Linked DNA regions of Homo sapiens: region 1 is linked to region 2. Evidence: fine-mapped expression QTL. A gene starts in region 2. The other region holds a variant in brackets. All regions are shown on one strand. Distances are from middle to middle. Region 1 overlaps PHTF2 (putative homeodomain transcription factor 2). Region 2 holds the start of PHTF2 (putative homeodomain transcription factor 2).

The links.
Region 1: its variant is fine-mapped to the expression of PHTF2 in whole blood (TOPMed, PIP 0.92).

The regions. Positions count from the first base shown.
Region 1 is chr7:77,937,054-77,945,396 of GRCh38, forward strand. It overlaps PHTF2 (putative homeodomain transcription factor 2), which reads left to right. Exons shown (of 19, transcript NM_001395272.1): 12 at 657-785; 13 at 2,977-3,249; 14 at 3,475-3,606; 15 at 5,647-5,733. Among named protein-coding and RNA genes, the nearest start is that of DDX3ILA1, 49 kb to the right of the region's middle. The variant C/T (reference allele first, on the strand shown) is at 3,189.
Region 2 is chr7:77,795,638-77,803,980 of GRCh38, forward strand. PHTF2 (putative homeodomain transcription factor 2) reads left to right here and starts at 3,136. Exons shown (of 19, transcript NM_001395272.1): 1 at 3,136-3,334. TMEM60 (transmembrane protein 60) reads right to left here and starts at 2,797. Exons shown (of 2, transcript NM_032936.4): 1 at 2,617-2,797. RefSeq lists an enhancer at 2,557-2,666 and a silencer at 3,077-3,216.

The DNA of each region.
Region 1 (8,343 bases), 140 kb after region 2:
CAGTTTTGTAATATTTGCTTTATCTGGAAAAAAAAAAAAAGTTAAATGGGTCCTTTGGAGAAATGCTGGATTAAAATATCAGAAAAGTAACTAAATCAGATATTAAACGTTAAATATGTAAGGAAGAGTCTTTTTTGGGATAAGACTAGCACTATATGGTCTTTCAAAGAGATTCAAATCTCAGCTGTCATATTCTTTTTTAATGATCATAAGTTGGACAATGATTACTATGAACAAGTTGATATCCATTTGTCTTTTAGCATTAGTATATTGCAGCTGTGTAGACTGACAACTAAGTACTTTTGCTGACATGTTTTAGTATATTTTTGAACATAGGTTGACTAATACTTGTTACAGAAAGTTCTCAACTTGTACAGTTTCATAACCATGTAACTTCTTATGATATCTGTTCAGTGTATATGCTAACTAATTTTAAGATAGAATTTTAGTGTCTTAGAGTTGTGTGTATAAATATATTAGCTGTGCACAGATCTATATATTCCATTTATAAAACATGATAAATATATTCACCAATTTTTATTTTTAGTGTCATTAAAATTGTGTGTGTATATAGAGATATATATACAACTTTATATACACACATTTTATTTATTAAATGTGATCTATATATTTACTAATTTTTTTTTTTTTTATAGAGTCATTTGCCCTGGCTCCATAGTTCCCACCCAGGATTAGAAAAAATAAGTGCTATAGTATGGGAAGGTAATGATTGTAAGAAAGCAGACATGTCTGTACTTGAAATCAGTGGAATGATAATGAACAGAGTGAGTTTTTAAATTTTATTCTTGTAGTTCAAGGGTAAGACTTAGTAATTATATATAAGATAATTACTGGAATATTATATTAGTAACCTTCTGACCTCATTTCTTCACCCTGAAAAAAAAGTTACATGTGTGTATTTGTTTCTGTCTGTAATTTAAACAGTGATTTGTCACCAAACCACTCTCATCTTCTAGTGTTTTCACTTATCTGACCAAGAATAGATGATACGGTCTATAATTTTTCTCTTTTATCTTTTTCTTTCTTTTGAAATTCAGGAGCTTGTTAGATATATACAGGTGTTAATAAAGACTTTTCTTTGGACTAGAGATTGTTGTTACAAGAACTTTAAAAATAAAAAAATAATTAAAAAGACTTATTTTTCTGTATCATTCTTACTGGTTCATTTGTTTAATAGGACTTAAGACATGAAAAAATCAAACTAGTAAATTTGCATTCATACTTGCTTACCTACTTAAATATATAGAAGTAATGCAGATAGTGGTAAAAGTCTTGAGTAGTTCAAAGAAGTCTAATTGAAATACTGTGGATTAAAATTTTATTTTCTATTATTTCTTTTTTCAGATAATTACTGATTTTTAAAATGTGTTGATTGGCCGGGCGCGGTGGCTCACGCCTGTAATCCCAGCACTTTGGGAGGCTGAGGCGGGCGGATCACAAGGTCAGGAGATCGAGACCATCCTGGCTAACATGGTGAAACCCCGTCTCTACTAAAAATACAAAAAAATTAGCCAGGCGTGGTGAAACCCTGTCTCTACTAAAAATACAAAAAATTAGCCGGGCGTGGTGGCGGGCGCCTGTAGTCCCAGCTACTCGGGAGGCTGAGGCAGGAGAATGGCATTAACCTGGGAGGCGGAGCTTGCAGTGAGCCAAGATCACGCCACTGCACTCCAGCCTGGGCGACAGAGCGAGACTCCGTCTCAAAAAATAAATAAATAAAAATAAAATAAAATAAAATGTGTTGATTTCTCTGGACTTGTTTTTAACTTGCAATTTCTAAATTTCTTTGGTGCATTATTGTGCTTGAACTCTTCTCCACACTTTGTGTAAGACAGGAATTATAATAACTGGGTCTAGAAATTGATAATACTCCCTATAACATATCTCAGTGTGAGCAATTAAAAGCAGTTGACGGGGAAGTCTCTGGAATCTTGGATCTAGTTTGTGCTCTGTAACTTAATTACCTGTGAATTGGCAGATCACTTAACTTACAATGGTCTCATTTATCTAATATATATTATAAAAAGTTGGCTACATGATAGTTAAGATCTCTTTTAGTTCTGCCAGTCTAGCATACTGGAAGCTTTTATATTGTCCCATTATCTAATTTCCTTTTTTAAAATAATTCCCTCACCTTTTTCCCTTTCTGTTTAATTTCTTCTTCCTTCTATCATCTCTCTTCTAAAATGCTTTTAGAGTTTAAGGAGACACTTATTTATATATTGGACTATTCAAAGAGAAATGTAAGCGGCTGGGTGTGTTGGCTTATGCCTGTAATCTCAACACTTTGGGAGCTAGAGGAGGGATGATCGCTTGAGCCCAGGAGTTAAAGACCAGCCTGAGCAACATAGTGAAACCCTGTCTTTACATCTCTACAAAACCCAAAAAATTAGCTGGGGGCGGTGGTGTATACCTGTAGTCCCAGCTACTAGGAATGCTGAGTTGGGAGGGATCACTTGAGCCCATTATTGTGCCACTGTACTCCAGCCTGGGCAATAGAGTGAGACCCTGTCTCAAAAAAAAAAAAAAAAAAAGAAAACAGAAAGAAAACCTCAAGTTACAAATGTACAAACGTATGAAATAAGTGTAATGCTGAGTTTTTTCTTCAATGAACTGAATTTCAGTGGATATGAGATCTCATTCTCTTTAATATTGCAGTATTTATGAATATTTCTAACTTGAAATAATGAAATACATAAATTTTTTTCAAGATCTGGATGACAGTCCTTTTGCCATCTACTTAGTAAATTAGCGATCTGATAATTGTTTTTAAGATCTGAAGAATTAATGACATTTTATATGTAGTAGGCTCTCAAACTTGAATGGGATTCAAATTACTCAGAATGAGTATATTTTAACAAATGATTTCATATTGCTATAAATAATTCTACTGTAGATAAAATTTATGGTATAATTTTATTTTTCTTTTCTCTCTCTTCCCCTGGCTCCCTCAAGGTGAACAGCCATATACCAGGAATAGGATACCAGATTTTTGGAAATGCAGTCTCTCTCATACTGGGTTTAACTCCATTTGTTTTCCGACTTTCTCAAGCTACAGACTTGGAACAACTCACAGCACATTCTGCTTCAGAACTTTATGTGATTGCATTTGGTTCTAATGAAGATGTCATAGTTCTTTCTATGGTTATAATAAGTTTTGTGGTTCG[C/T]GTGTCTCTTGTGTGGATTTTCTTTTTTTTGCTCTGTGTAGCAGAAAGAACTTATAAACAGGTGGGTATAATGTAGACTTCCGAATAAGAATATTTTATCGTTTTCATAATATTAAAAGTATTCCTGAAGTACTTTATTATTTCATTATATCATTTTTACCTAATTATTTTTTATTTTGCTTTTATAGTACCTAACCAAATAAAATCTTAACAATTCATATTTTGTTAATTTTGTTTTTCTGTGGTAATCTACTTGAAAATTAATCCTCATCTTAATCTTTTTTAGCGATTACTTTTTGCAAAACTCTTTGGACATTTAACATCTGCAAGGAGGGCTCGAAAATCTGAGGTTCCTCATTTCCGGTTGAAGAAAGTACAGAATATAAAAATGTGGCTATCTCTCCGTTCCTATCTTAAGGTAGAATGGGAGTGATAAAAGTAGCTTTAACATGCTGGCCCTTTCTGATAGTTCCAGTTTCTTTATCAATATATATTTGTCTCTAGATGTATAGTAACCAGCTTTTACTCATTCAAAAACTGGATTAGGGATTTTGTTTCTACTAGCCTGGTTGTCACAAGCCAGCAGAGGGAGCCCACTACTTAAAAAAGAATTTAAAAAAAATAACCAATGAGTTTCCTCACAGAAGTGACCTATTACTATTTTAAAATATTAGTTTGCAATTCAGTGTCATTCTTTTCATGTCATTATTTTCCTTTAATCTTTTGAGTAATTTTCCTAATTATGGAAGTATGATATAAAAACTCTGGAGGGAAGAGGGAAACATCTAAATTGGTTTTAGGAAAACACTTTTTTTCTGAGGATTACTTCTTGTTATTGCATTAAGTAGCAGTAGAATGTCATTATATATGGAGTAATCATGCAAATTCCAATGATATTTATTCACAGCACTGTCTGTATCTTAGTAAAGTTGACCTGAAGACCAATCATCCTCTGACATACCTAGATCTTTAATGCTTTATATTTTGAAATAATAATCAAAGAAGCCCTAATAATAATAATGCCCTATTTCTCTACTCTTATATTTAAAAAATTCATTGTTCTGTTTATTAATTTAACTTGTTAAATTTAGCTTACTTAGTGTCACTGCTGCAAATTGGCATGGATATTTTTTTCCTATGACATATCTGTTGTATGGAGGGATGAATCTGATCGCTTGAATTCGTCCAAAATTTCCTCCATTGTCAACCCTAAGCAGGTGTTACATTCTTTTGTACATTGATTATTTTATTCCGTAAACACTTATTTATGTTAACCATGTGCCATTCATTGTTGATGAGATGAAAGCCCCTACCCTCATACGTAAGCTTATACTTCAGTGAGGGAATGTAAGCCCAGACCTAGGAATTATCCTAGTTTAATCTCTAGTCTCCAATTTATCACCAATTCCTATCTTTTCTGCTCCCAAAATATATCTTGAATCCATTTGCTTCTCTTTGTTCCATTTCTGCCACCCTCATTGAAACCATCAATCATCTTCTACCTCATGCTACTTCAGTTACCTCTTACCTGGCATTCCAGCATTCACATTTCTTCTTTTCATTCCTTTCTTCAGTCTGCCACCAGTGATCATTTAAAAATGTATATTTGGCCCTATATTCTTAAAACTTTTTGGAGGTTCTTCATTTCTCTTAAGATAAAGCACAAAATCTTAACAAGGTTTATAATGCCCTTTATGATCTAAGTTCTCCCTTATTCACCTGTCTTTTGTTTCATTTTGAAACACTCTCCTTCCTAGTCCACTACATTCCAACCATTTTAGACTGCTTCCGTTCTTTACATGAGCTGTGATCTGTCCTGCTTTATGTTCTTGCACATGCCCTTCCTTCTACCTAGAACACTGCTGTGTGCCATCATGCCCCTGCCCCTCCCCCTTAGTTTGGTGTAAATATCACTTCCTTAGGGAGATCTTCACAGGCCCGCACTCCTAACCCTCAAATCTAAATGAAGTCTCCCTGCCAAGTATCTCAAAGCATCCTATGTCTTTCCCTTTTAGCACTCATCACAATTTATCACATATATCTGTGATTATTAACTTGATGTCTCACTCCCCTCCTAGTTCCTGTGAAGGTAGAGGGACCATGTGTTGTTCTCTGTTGTATTTGTAGCACCCAGCACAGTATCTAGTGCTAAGCAGGTGCTTAAGAAATATTTGTCGAATAAATGACTTGTGTTTGACAAAATGAAGTATTTGAAAGTTATACCAATAATTTTATGCTATATAAATATAGATACCCTTTTAACTCTGTTGCAATTCCTCAGGAAATCATAACACTATCATTAAAATTTGCCTAACAAATTAGGTATATTCAACATTGTGGGCTGTGATCAACTGATGGTGATGAGTCAACACCTTTATTGAAACCATGGAAATTATCTGCTGATTAGTAAATATATTTTAAAATGTTTCCTTTTCTCCCTTCCACCCACACCCTGCAGCGTCGAGGTCCTCAGCGATCAGTTGATGTAATAGTTTCATCTGCTTTCTTATTGACTATCTCAGTTGTATTTATCTGTTGTGCCCAGGTGAGTTAACTCGCTCCATGTAGAAATTAACCAGATATATAAATATTAACTTTCAGATTAATAAATAATCAAATAATAATATAAGTAAGCCTAGTTAGAAAGTAAGTTTTGAAGTTACCTTTTTGCAGTTTTTTTGGTAGAATAAATAAGTGCATCTTATCTCTGTGCCATGAACAGTGAGCATGTATGCTCAAATGTCTGTTGAATGAACACAGATTAATTAATTTTTGCCTAGAATCCTTCTCATTATCTTTACTTCCCAAAAGAAACGTATGAGTTATGAAATTGTCCCATGAATATCCAATTTATTCATGTTTACTATTCTTTTCTTTCTTTCTTTCTTTCTTTTTTTTGAGATGGAGTCTCGCTCTGTCGCGCAGGCGGAGTGCAGTGGCGCGATCTCGGCTCACTGCAACCTCCGCCTCCCGGGTTCACGCCATTCTCCTGCCTCAGCCTCCTGAGTAGCTGGGACTACAGGTGCCCACCACCACACCCGGCTAATTTATTTTTTGTATTTTTTTTAGTAGAGACGGGGTTTCACCGTGTTAGCCAGGATGGTCTCAATCTCCTGACCTCGTGATCTGCCCGCCTCGGCCTCCCAAAGTGCTGGGATTACAGGCGTGAGCCACAGCGCCCGACCTATTCTTTCATTTTTTATACCTGAATTGTTACTGTGACTTAACTGCTGCATACTCTGAAAAAGAATTTTTAGTGACCCAGCTTAGTTAGGGAGTACAAAAGTATCTCAGGATATGCACTGCTATAATGCAGGGGAACATGTTCTCAGGGTCTCCTGAGGGTTGTGTCATGGGCCGTGTAATATTAAAAAATAAGTTTAAACGTATTAAAATTTTAAAAACAAAAATAATAAAATATATGCAAACCTCCATTCCAAGTAGTATGATGTACTAGATTATCTGAAAATTCTTCTACTTTAAAACATCAAACAGGCCGGGCACAGTGGCTCACACCTGTAATCCCAGCCCTTTGGGAGGCCAAGGAGTGCGGATCACCTGAGGTCAGGAGTTCGAGACCAGCCCGACCAACATGGTAAAACCTCGTCTCTATTAAAAATACAAAAATTAGCCGGGCATGGTGGTAGGCGCCTGTAATCCCAGCTATTCAGGAGGCTGAGGCATGAGAATTGCTTGAACCCAGAAGGCGGAGATTGCACCACTGCACTCCAGCCTGGGGGATACAGCAAGACTCTGTCTCCAAAAACAAACAAATAAAAAAAAAAATCAAACAATGCTCGGGGGAACCCTCAGCTTTTGAATGTACATATTGTGTACATATCTGAGTTCATAAGATAATAAAGGGCCAAAAATGAAGACAAAACTGAAAACCAGAGCATTTAAGAATAAGCATTAATGCTATGGCAGCATGAGAATAAGAGAGTGAAGTACATTGCCAGTATTAGTATTGTATCCCAGAGACTTGAAATTTTATGCCCACGTAGGACAGGAGATGAGGCCTTGACCTGTGTACCTCCCTACTCACACCATGAAGTCAAACCCTCAAAGATCTACAGCCTCAGTGAAAAGTTGGATAAGAAAAACAGTCTGCTCACCAGCACTGGACGACAAGAAGGAAGCTTATCTGACTCTGGATGACAAGGACGGGGGAAAAGTCTCTTCTAAGAATATATAATTATAACTCTTCCCTTACTACAGGTTTAGGGTTCATATTGACATTATACATCTTGTCCTGTAACCCTCATGTCAAAAAGTTAATATAAAAAGTGGTCCTAGGCCCCTGGATACCTGACAGAAGCAAAACCAAGGCTGTTTGGAGGCATGCGACTTCAGCCTAGACCTCACGGGAACCACAGATAAAGCTCCTTCCGGTATCAAAACATAGGAAGAAACAGTCTAACATGAAGGAGTCAACAGATAAACCCATAGCAGGATTAGATCTCCAGCTATTTCAGTTTGATCAGGTGGAAACTAAGTTTGTTTACAGTGATGAAAGACATAGATAACACTGTGAAAAAAGAACAGATAAGTTTGAAAAAGAACTTCAGACAAATGAAAAATACAGTTATTGACTTTTGACTTGTTTTTTGCTTTTCACTGCTGGAACAAAGTCACTGACTTTTAAAACACAATGAACAGAATAAATAGCAAATTAAAGAAAGCTAAAGACATAGTGAACTGGGAGGTGAAAGAAATGACTAAAATACAGGACAGAGATAAAGAGACAGAAAATGCAAAATGGATATTTAGACATCGTGGGAGATCCAACATAGGTCTAATAAGAATTACAGGAGGAGGCTGGGTGTGGTGGCCCACGCCTGTAATCCCAGCATTTTGGGAGGCTGAGGCAGTCAGAGCACTTGAGGTCAGGAGTTCGCAAGCAGCCTGGCCAATATGGTGAAACCTCTCTCTACTGAAAATACAAAATTAACTGGGCATGGTGGCTCGCGCCTGTAATCGCAGCTGCTCGGGAGGATGAGGCAGGAGAATCGCTTGAACCTGGGAGGCAGAAGTTGCAGTGAGCCAAGGTCACGCCACTGTACTTCAGCCTGGGCAACAGAAAGAGACTGTCTCCAAAAGGAAAAAGAATTCCAGGAAGAAAGAATGCTGAAAAACAACATTTGGAGAAATAATG
Region 2 (8,343 bases):
ACAAATATCTTTCTTGGTATAATAGTTTTTTTCCTTTTAACAATAGTCTCACTGATTGGTGGTGTATATATGTATTTTTTTAAGCTACTTGTTATCCATTCAATAATCAGGACCACCTAATAAACTTTTGATGTTTTGTGATTATTAGATGCTAAATTTTGGGGGCTATTTCTTATATCACTATTCTGCCTCATTGATCTATATGTTTCTCTTTTGCACTAATACTATATGACTTAGTGTTGCTCTAGGAATGTATTAATATCTGGAAGGCCTAGTATCTACTCGTTGTTCTCTTTTCTAGAATTTTTTTTTTTTTTGAGACGGAGTCTCACTCTTGTCACTCAGGTTGGAGTGCAGTGGCACGATCTCAGGTCACTGCAGCCTCTGCCTCTCGGGTTCAAGTGATCCTCCCACTTAAGTTTCCCAAGTAGCTGGGATTACAAGTGTGCGCCACCACGCCCAGCTAGTTTTTGTATTTTTAGTAGAGATGGGGTTTCACCATGTTGGCCAGGCTGATCTCGAACTCCTGACCTCAAGTGATCCACCCACCTCAGCCTCCCAAAGTGTTGGGATTACAGGTTTGAGCCACCACGCCGGCCTCTTTTCTAGAATATTTTCTATTTTGCCCTTACAGTTTTTCAATGCTAAATTTGCTGATTCTTGAAAACCTAGAATTTTGATTATGAATGCATAAAACTTAGCTTGGGATAGCATTTATTATATTTAATCTTCACATATAGGTTTATGATATGTTCCTCTACTTAAGTTTTTTATACCAACCTTTATGGCCACTTGGAAAAAGGATAAGTAGAATGGGAAATCAGAAGCCAGACTGCATGCAGCTGGGTAAGGAGTTAACAGAAGACCAAGAAATGGAAACAATTGAGAACATTTTATTCCTTTGAGGCATTTGGAGAAGAGAAAAATGAAAGATAGGGTATATGAAACTGAAAGAAGAAATTTTCAGGAAAGGAAGAATTTATGACTATAAACAGAAATAAGCCAATGGGGAATGACACTGAAGATGAGAGAGGATACTTGATGGAAAGAGAAAAAGATCAGAAGGTGCTAGGGATAGGAACAAAAGCATGCGTGGTAGGAGGAAAGATGCAGGAAGATAACAGGGAAAAGGTGAAGGAACTGGCTAATTGAGCCAAATACCCTAGATTAGCGTGCTCAATTATATTTTAGAACTAACTTTGATGTACTGTGCAACATCTCTACTACTTTAAATAGTGGGTGGCTATCACAGTGCAAGAGGACACATCTGTTCTATTTCAACAGTTAAGTATTAGTCTCCTAACTCACCTCTTTTCCCTTATACCCATCTAGTGGCACTTAAACTTGTTTACTTAATTGGCAAAGGCTTCATACTGCAGTAATTTTGCTTCTAAGGAGGCATTTTTCTGTGTTGGTTTCCTTTCCCGGCCAGAGGCTGCCATAGAGTGGGATGTGGGACTGAATTTGGAAGCAGGGTTGGAGGGGTGTGTGTTGATTAATAACCATGGATGGATTTCATCCCGTAAATTGCACAATCCCCACCTCCAATCTATCAGGCCGTTTTTGTGAACCTCTGAAAAACGGTTTATGATTATACACTTGCTTAAACCTAACTGTTCCATCTGCTATCGGATAAGACAAGCTTCATTTTTTTCTTACATTTGGCTGTACTTACCACAGGTGCTTTAGGGCTGGAGGTGAAAGGATGCAAGTAACAATCTTATTGTGCCTACAAGATTTATAATGTGGGATGCAACAAAATTCTGTTATGTTCTTGCACGGAAATACCCTCAATGGGGAAGCACTGCTGATACTTAAATGACGATTGAAGGATTGTACGCCTGTATGCTGAGCTACAACGATGACATACGATCCCAGTTTTACATTTACGTCTTCATCAATTTGAGCAGTCGTTATGTTTCCTACTATTCTCTCCACAAGAAAGGGGGAGGTGCGTACTCCAAAAATGTGCTCAACTAAAATGTTTCCCATTTAAGGTGGTTATTTCTGGCACTAGGAAGACAGTTAAATATTTGTTAATGATTCCTTACTCATTTTTAAAACCTTCGGAGTTACCCCTGTATGGACATATATAGAGCCCCACCCACATAGCCCACGGCTGGGTATCAGCCCCCATTTCCCTTCTCTCGCCACTGCCAGTAGTCTACCAAGTGAACCTGCCTCATCCCAAAGATAATTTTGCTTCATGAGCCCACATATTTATTCTTCTTCATAATGAGTCGCTTTTGAAAAGCCCGTGCAGCAACAGCCTTGGCCAAAGGAACAGCGTTCTGCTTACAACTTAGCTCATCTGGGGGCCTATTTGCCCCTGGAACTTCAGGACGCTCCTAAACTATACTTGCCCTTCTGCAAACACCGACAGTCGGCTCGCGGCGCCCCACCGGGACGCTCCCCTTTCATGGGCTGTAAGCCCAGCACATGCTGGAGTTTAACACGGTTCCTGCTGGATGCGCACAGAAGCCCTGGAGCCAAGCAGGCGTGTGCGCGTTTGGGGCTGGCTGTGTGATGGGTTGAGGGTCGGCCGCACAGCCCACGGAAGCATCAGGAGACCAGCGCCGGCGTACGGTGCGGGCTAGGGCAGAGCCCCAGACTCACCTGGCAGCGCTGCCGGCCGGAAAGCGGAGAGGGACGCGAAGATCAGCAAATTCGCCAGTTTGGATCCTTGTCCTTTTCCGCCCTTTTCCCCCCATTAAATCCAGAACCCGTCACATGATAATTAAGAAAAAACTTCAGTTCCGCCTCCTCAAACGACTGCGGTAGAGGATCTCTCAGTTCTACCTCAGTGCCGCGCCCACATCCGGGGCTGGTTCTCACCGCCCCTGAGCCTACCCTATAGGTAGAGAGGACGCCAATCTGGATTCAGAGGTCCCTTTTCCGCGGTAATTGGACCATTTGTCCGCCAGTGCAAACCAACCGACCTTTCCTTACTTTCGGGTTCGACAGAAAGGCGGCAATAAAAAGACCCATTGGTCCCGCCTCTCTACTGTCACGGGTTAGTAGGGAAGTCAGTCCAAGATCAGCCTGGAGTTTCCGTGCTCCCATTGGGCCCACAGATGTTAATCAGAGCAGCCGGCGCTCAGCTCCGCCCTCTCGGGACGCCCCGCCCCTCCTCCCATCCTCCCTGCCCGCGCGCAGTGACTGCAGGCTCCGGCGCAAAATCCTGCGGGAGAGGGGGTGGGGCAACCCTCTGGAGGCAGCGCGCCCGCGGGCAGCCTCGTTGTGGCTCCTTGGGCTCTGTTGGCGGCGGCGCTAGCTTCGGAGTCTCCCGCGCGCACCTCAGCCGCCTCCTAGCGGCGCGGCGCTCGCTCCTACGGTAAGAGCGGCATCACCTCCGCGCTCGGGTGGGCAGTGTGGAGGTCGTCGAGTTCTGACAGAATTTCGAGGATGGATCGGGACGAGGGAGGAGAGCGGTCGTCGGGATGGAGGTGGGGGCTCCGGGGCCAACGCGTCGCCCTCCGTCGCCGGCGACTTTCCCGGCAGTCTCCCGTACCTGAGGGCCGGGGTCAGCCGCGACCCCTTCTCATCAGTCGGCCGGTGGCGGAGGCTCAGCCGCCTTCCTCCCGAGCTCGCGCGGTCCTCAAGTCTTGATGGTGACGGGCCGAAGCCCAGCGCGCCACCCGCCCCTCGGGCCCCGCTTCCAGGCCCCTGTCCTTTGCTTCCTTCCCTTGGCGCTGTGCTGAGGGGTCGTCGGGTCCTGGAAGGGCGTTCAGGGGTCTCGGGTGGCTAGCCCGGCTGGCGGGGAGATGTCAGCTAGCGGCCGGAGGAGCGGGCTCGGGAGGGGGCGGCGGCTCGCGCGCTGGAGGAGGTGGAAGGAGGGTCGCTGCCCTGCCCCCTCTGAGCAGGCGGCAGTCGAGTTTTCTGATCCCAACACGGCGGAGTGGGTGCTTAAGGCATGGGCCTTAAGGGATAGTTCCCGTCTGGAAACAATACCGTGCTCCATCAGCATGCTTCAGCTTTTCTTATTTTTATCTGCCCAGTGTTGACAGCCAGCATTCTGGTATTGTCCTTCGAGTCATGGCTTTCTAACTCAGCACCTCCTTGTGTAACTTCAGGGATCATTCTGTCACTAATCTGTCACCCTTCTTATTTTTAGCGTGGCGAAAACAAGGAACTGCCTTATACTAACCTGGGCAGTGCAGAATCTGGAACAATTTATTAATCTCAGTGTGTACTTTACATGCCAAGTAATTTTGAAATTCATGGTGAATATTAAATATTTTGTAGTTTTCGGTTGCTTTCTTTGTTAATAGTATATCCTCCTTGCTTTGAGACTACTTTTCAGGTGTGATACTTTAATCTTAAGGTTTTTGGTTAGCTTTTGCCATTTTTAAACGTTTCTTTCATTTTTTTTTTCTCCAAGACTTTGGCAAGAGACTTAGTATTTGATCTTGTTTTCAGGTATTTTTGTAAAGTTTATTTTCTTTCAAACTGGGCTTTTTTCACCATATTTTTAATATTGGAAGGGGAATTCTGAAAGTCTGGAAACTGCACACTTTAGCCTAAAGAGTCACAAAACAGTATAACAATTTGAAATCCTAACTTGGATATGGTGTATGGACTGCAAATTTTAAGAGAAGGAAATGGATATGCGTTATCAGTTGTAGTGGCTCCACCTCCATAACGTAGAGGAGAGGAATCTGGAGGTCTGCGGAGAATGAGCCATGTCTGGGGCCAGAAACAGTGGTTCCAGGAAATATTTTTGCCCCAGAAATAGCCTGCCTCCCACACAGACTGGCTGTCTGAATGCATCTGATAGTTTTAAGTTAGGTGTTAGTGAGGTGGAGAGTTTTCGTGTTCCAATTTTGACCACTTTCTGGTGGAGCATGAAAATGTGGTGAGTAAACAAGTATAGTATACAATGGGGGCACTCTTGCATAGATAGTCAAGCCTCCAAGAGTAAACTTTTTTTGAGCCCAAACTGGCACTGGACAGTTGGCCCTAAAAATGAAGAAGGTGGCCCACCCAATTTTTAAACCATGAACTTTTTTTGGCTGGTCCATTTAATGCAAAATTGCAAGGAATATGTAATGAAAAAAACCTTCACTAAACTGAAGAGAATTTAGGGTGTCATGTGGATAAAATGAAACTCGAAAATAGTTGGACTACTTGTATATTATTTAATCATTTTAGTCCTGTGAGATGGGTACTGATTACTGTCATTTTATAGATGAGCAAACCAAGACTTAGTTTAACTAATTTGTTCAAGATTTCTTCACAAATGAGTCAGTAGAGGTGAGATTCACACCTAAGCAGTCTGATTCCAAAGCCTACATTCCAAGCCATTATACTTTATTACCACAATAAAATTGGCTTCTTGGAGACTTTATAGTAGGAGACTACTCAGTGGAAAATAACACTGCAAAACCGTAAATTGAATCCACTATTGTACACAGTAACACTTTGAGATCATTGTATAATAGGCACTGTTGGATTTTGCTGAAGATAAAGGGATGGAGTCACCTTCTCTGTGTTTGAGGAGCATTCATTTGATGGGAGAAATAGATATTTGAACAAATGACGATAATACAATATATACAGATTGAGCATCTGTAAACTGAAAATCTGAAATGCTCTAAAATCTGGAACCTTTTGAGTGCCAAGATGATGCCACAAGACACTTGACTTCATGTGACAGGTTACAGTCAAGCTGGGTGCGGTGGCTCACGCCCGTAATCCCAGCACTTTGGGAGGCCAAGGCGGGTGGATCACCTGAGGTCAGGAGTTCAAGACCAGCCTGACCAATATGAAACCCCGTCTCTACTAAAAATACAAAAAAAATTAGCCGGGCGTGGTGGTATGCACCTGTAGTCCCAGCTACTCGGGAGGCTGATACAGGAGAATCGCTTGAACCCAGGAGGTGGAGGTTGCAGTGAGCCGAGATCGCACCACTGCACTTGGCCTGGGTGACAGAGCAAGACACCGTCTCAAAAACAAAAACAAAACAAAACAAAAAAACAGTCAAAACTTAGCTTCATGCACAGAATTATTTTAAAATGTTATATAAAATTACCTTTGGGCTATTTGTATAAGGTGTAAATGAAACATAAATGAATTTTGTGTTTAGACTTGAGTCCCATCTCTAAGATATCTCTTTATGTATATGCAAATATTACAAAATCCAAAATCCAAAATGCTTGTGGTCCCAATAATTCTTGAGACAAGAATTCAGTTAAAGTATAGACAGTCTGGATTTGAATTCCTATCAGGCTTTGTGACTTTGAACATAACACCAAACCTCTTTTAGCATCAGTTTCCTTATCTGTTTAATGGAAAGGGCAATACTTCAAAGAAGACATTAAGCCTTAAATAAAATATATAAAGTACGGGCACATAGAAAGCAGTGAATACAAAAGAAACAATAAATAATTTTAAGAGAGAACTAGTTGGGTTTCAGGGGAGCTACCACTGAAGCCTTAAAGGTCTGAAGGTGGTGTTTGTAGGTGGAGAAAGAGGGCATTCCATGCAGAACAGGAAGAGGCAGAGTCTCAGAACAGAAATATGGATTGTTTAGGGAATGGTAAGTAATTGTAGCTTTGTATAAAATGTATGTGTGAAGGCCAGCTTTAAATGATAATGGTATGTAAATGTGGTTGGGCAAAGTGAGTACTACCCAATTTTGATAATTGGAAATTGCATACTTAGATACTAAAATTATAGGAAAACCTCAGCAGTTTGTCCATTATTACATGTTTATTTAATATTCACCTTCCAATACTTACTTTCCCAGTTCAAATTAAGACTCAAAGAAGAATTCCAAAATGATGGTTGCCATCCCTTAACCCCTTTACCTAGCCTGTAGCCACATGGAGTCATTATTGTGAACTCCCCTTTGCATATATTTTGACTGTCTTTTCTTAATCCCTACTTGATACATGATAGTGGGACAGAGTTTTTTTATTTTGAGACAGGGTCTCATTCTGTCTTCCAGGTTGGAGTACAGTAGTGTAATTACTGTAACCTTGAACTCCCAGGCTCAGGCAATCCTGTTGCCTTAGCCTCCTGAGTAGCTAGACCTGCAGGCATGCACCACTGTGTCCAGCTAATGTTTTAATTTTTATTTTTTTGTACATACAGGGTCTTGCTATGTTGGCCAGGCTAGAGACCTCAAGTGATTTTCCCATCTTGGCCTACCAAAGTCCTGGGATTACAGATATAAGCCACCACTCCTGGCCAGTGTGTTTTAAATTGGGACTGCCCTTGAAAATCTGAGAAAGTCTCGTGCTTCTATCTTCTTCTCAGATTAATACCAAACCATAAATACGTTAAATTTACAAATCTGAAACATCACTTGATGACCAGAATCATATGACTAAGTGGAAAATATTAAGTGACATTTAGGAAAACTGCATTTTTAGTCCACTTTGTTATTCTCATGAAAATTGCTAATGTGACACAAAATATAGAAGTGAGTTTTCAGATGAGAACAACTGATTGCTTCCTGGAACAGGTAGTTTTAGAGCACTAGGAATGAAAATATGCTGGATTTTATTCTGGGTACTGAACAGGAACTGGGGCAGGAAATAGCTGTGGCTGAACCACTACCTGATAATAATCATAACATGATTAAATTTGACATTTAATGAGAGGAAGTAAAGGGAAAAGTGCATAGTATGCAGCTTTCCAGTTGCAAAAACAGTACAAGAAAGGGGCTGTTAAAAGTATATCTACAGAAATTTTAAAGACATGTAGGCATTCATATTTGTTGCATGAATGAAAGTACTTTTGTAAGACCTTTTGTATAGGATTTGTTACAGATACCAGAAAATTTATGAAAATTAGGTGGCACAAGTTTTGGTGCTCTGTAGACCTAGGTTCAAGTCCTGATACTGCCATCACTGGTTGTGTGACATTGGACTCATTATGTAATATTTTTGAGGTTCAGTTTTATTTATTCTTTAAATGGAGTTACCTACTTTGCGAGATTTTAAGAATTAAATGAGATAATGTATGTAAAGCACTTGACATATTCTTGATTTCTAAGACTAGCTCAAAAAGTGGTTGTTGCAGTTATTTGACTGAGTTGAACAGGCGTGTGTGTGTGTGTGTGTGTGTGTGTGTGTGTGTGTGTAGGTTTTAAAATAACAATTTCCAGATAGAATAAGAGAAGCCAGAAAATGGCAAACAAGCAAATAAAACCTTAAAGGGAGGCAATAGGATTCAACCGGCAGAGTTGAATAATCATTTTACCCACACAAAAGAAGGGAAAATATAGGAAGAGAGCTTCACATTATCAACTTTTTTCTGAAGAAAGTACATCAAACTCATTAAACCAGATGGAATGCATAAATAAGGTTTTGCTATTGGAAATGACAATGAAAAAAA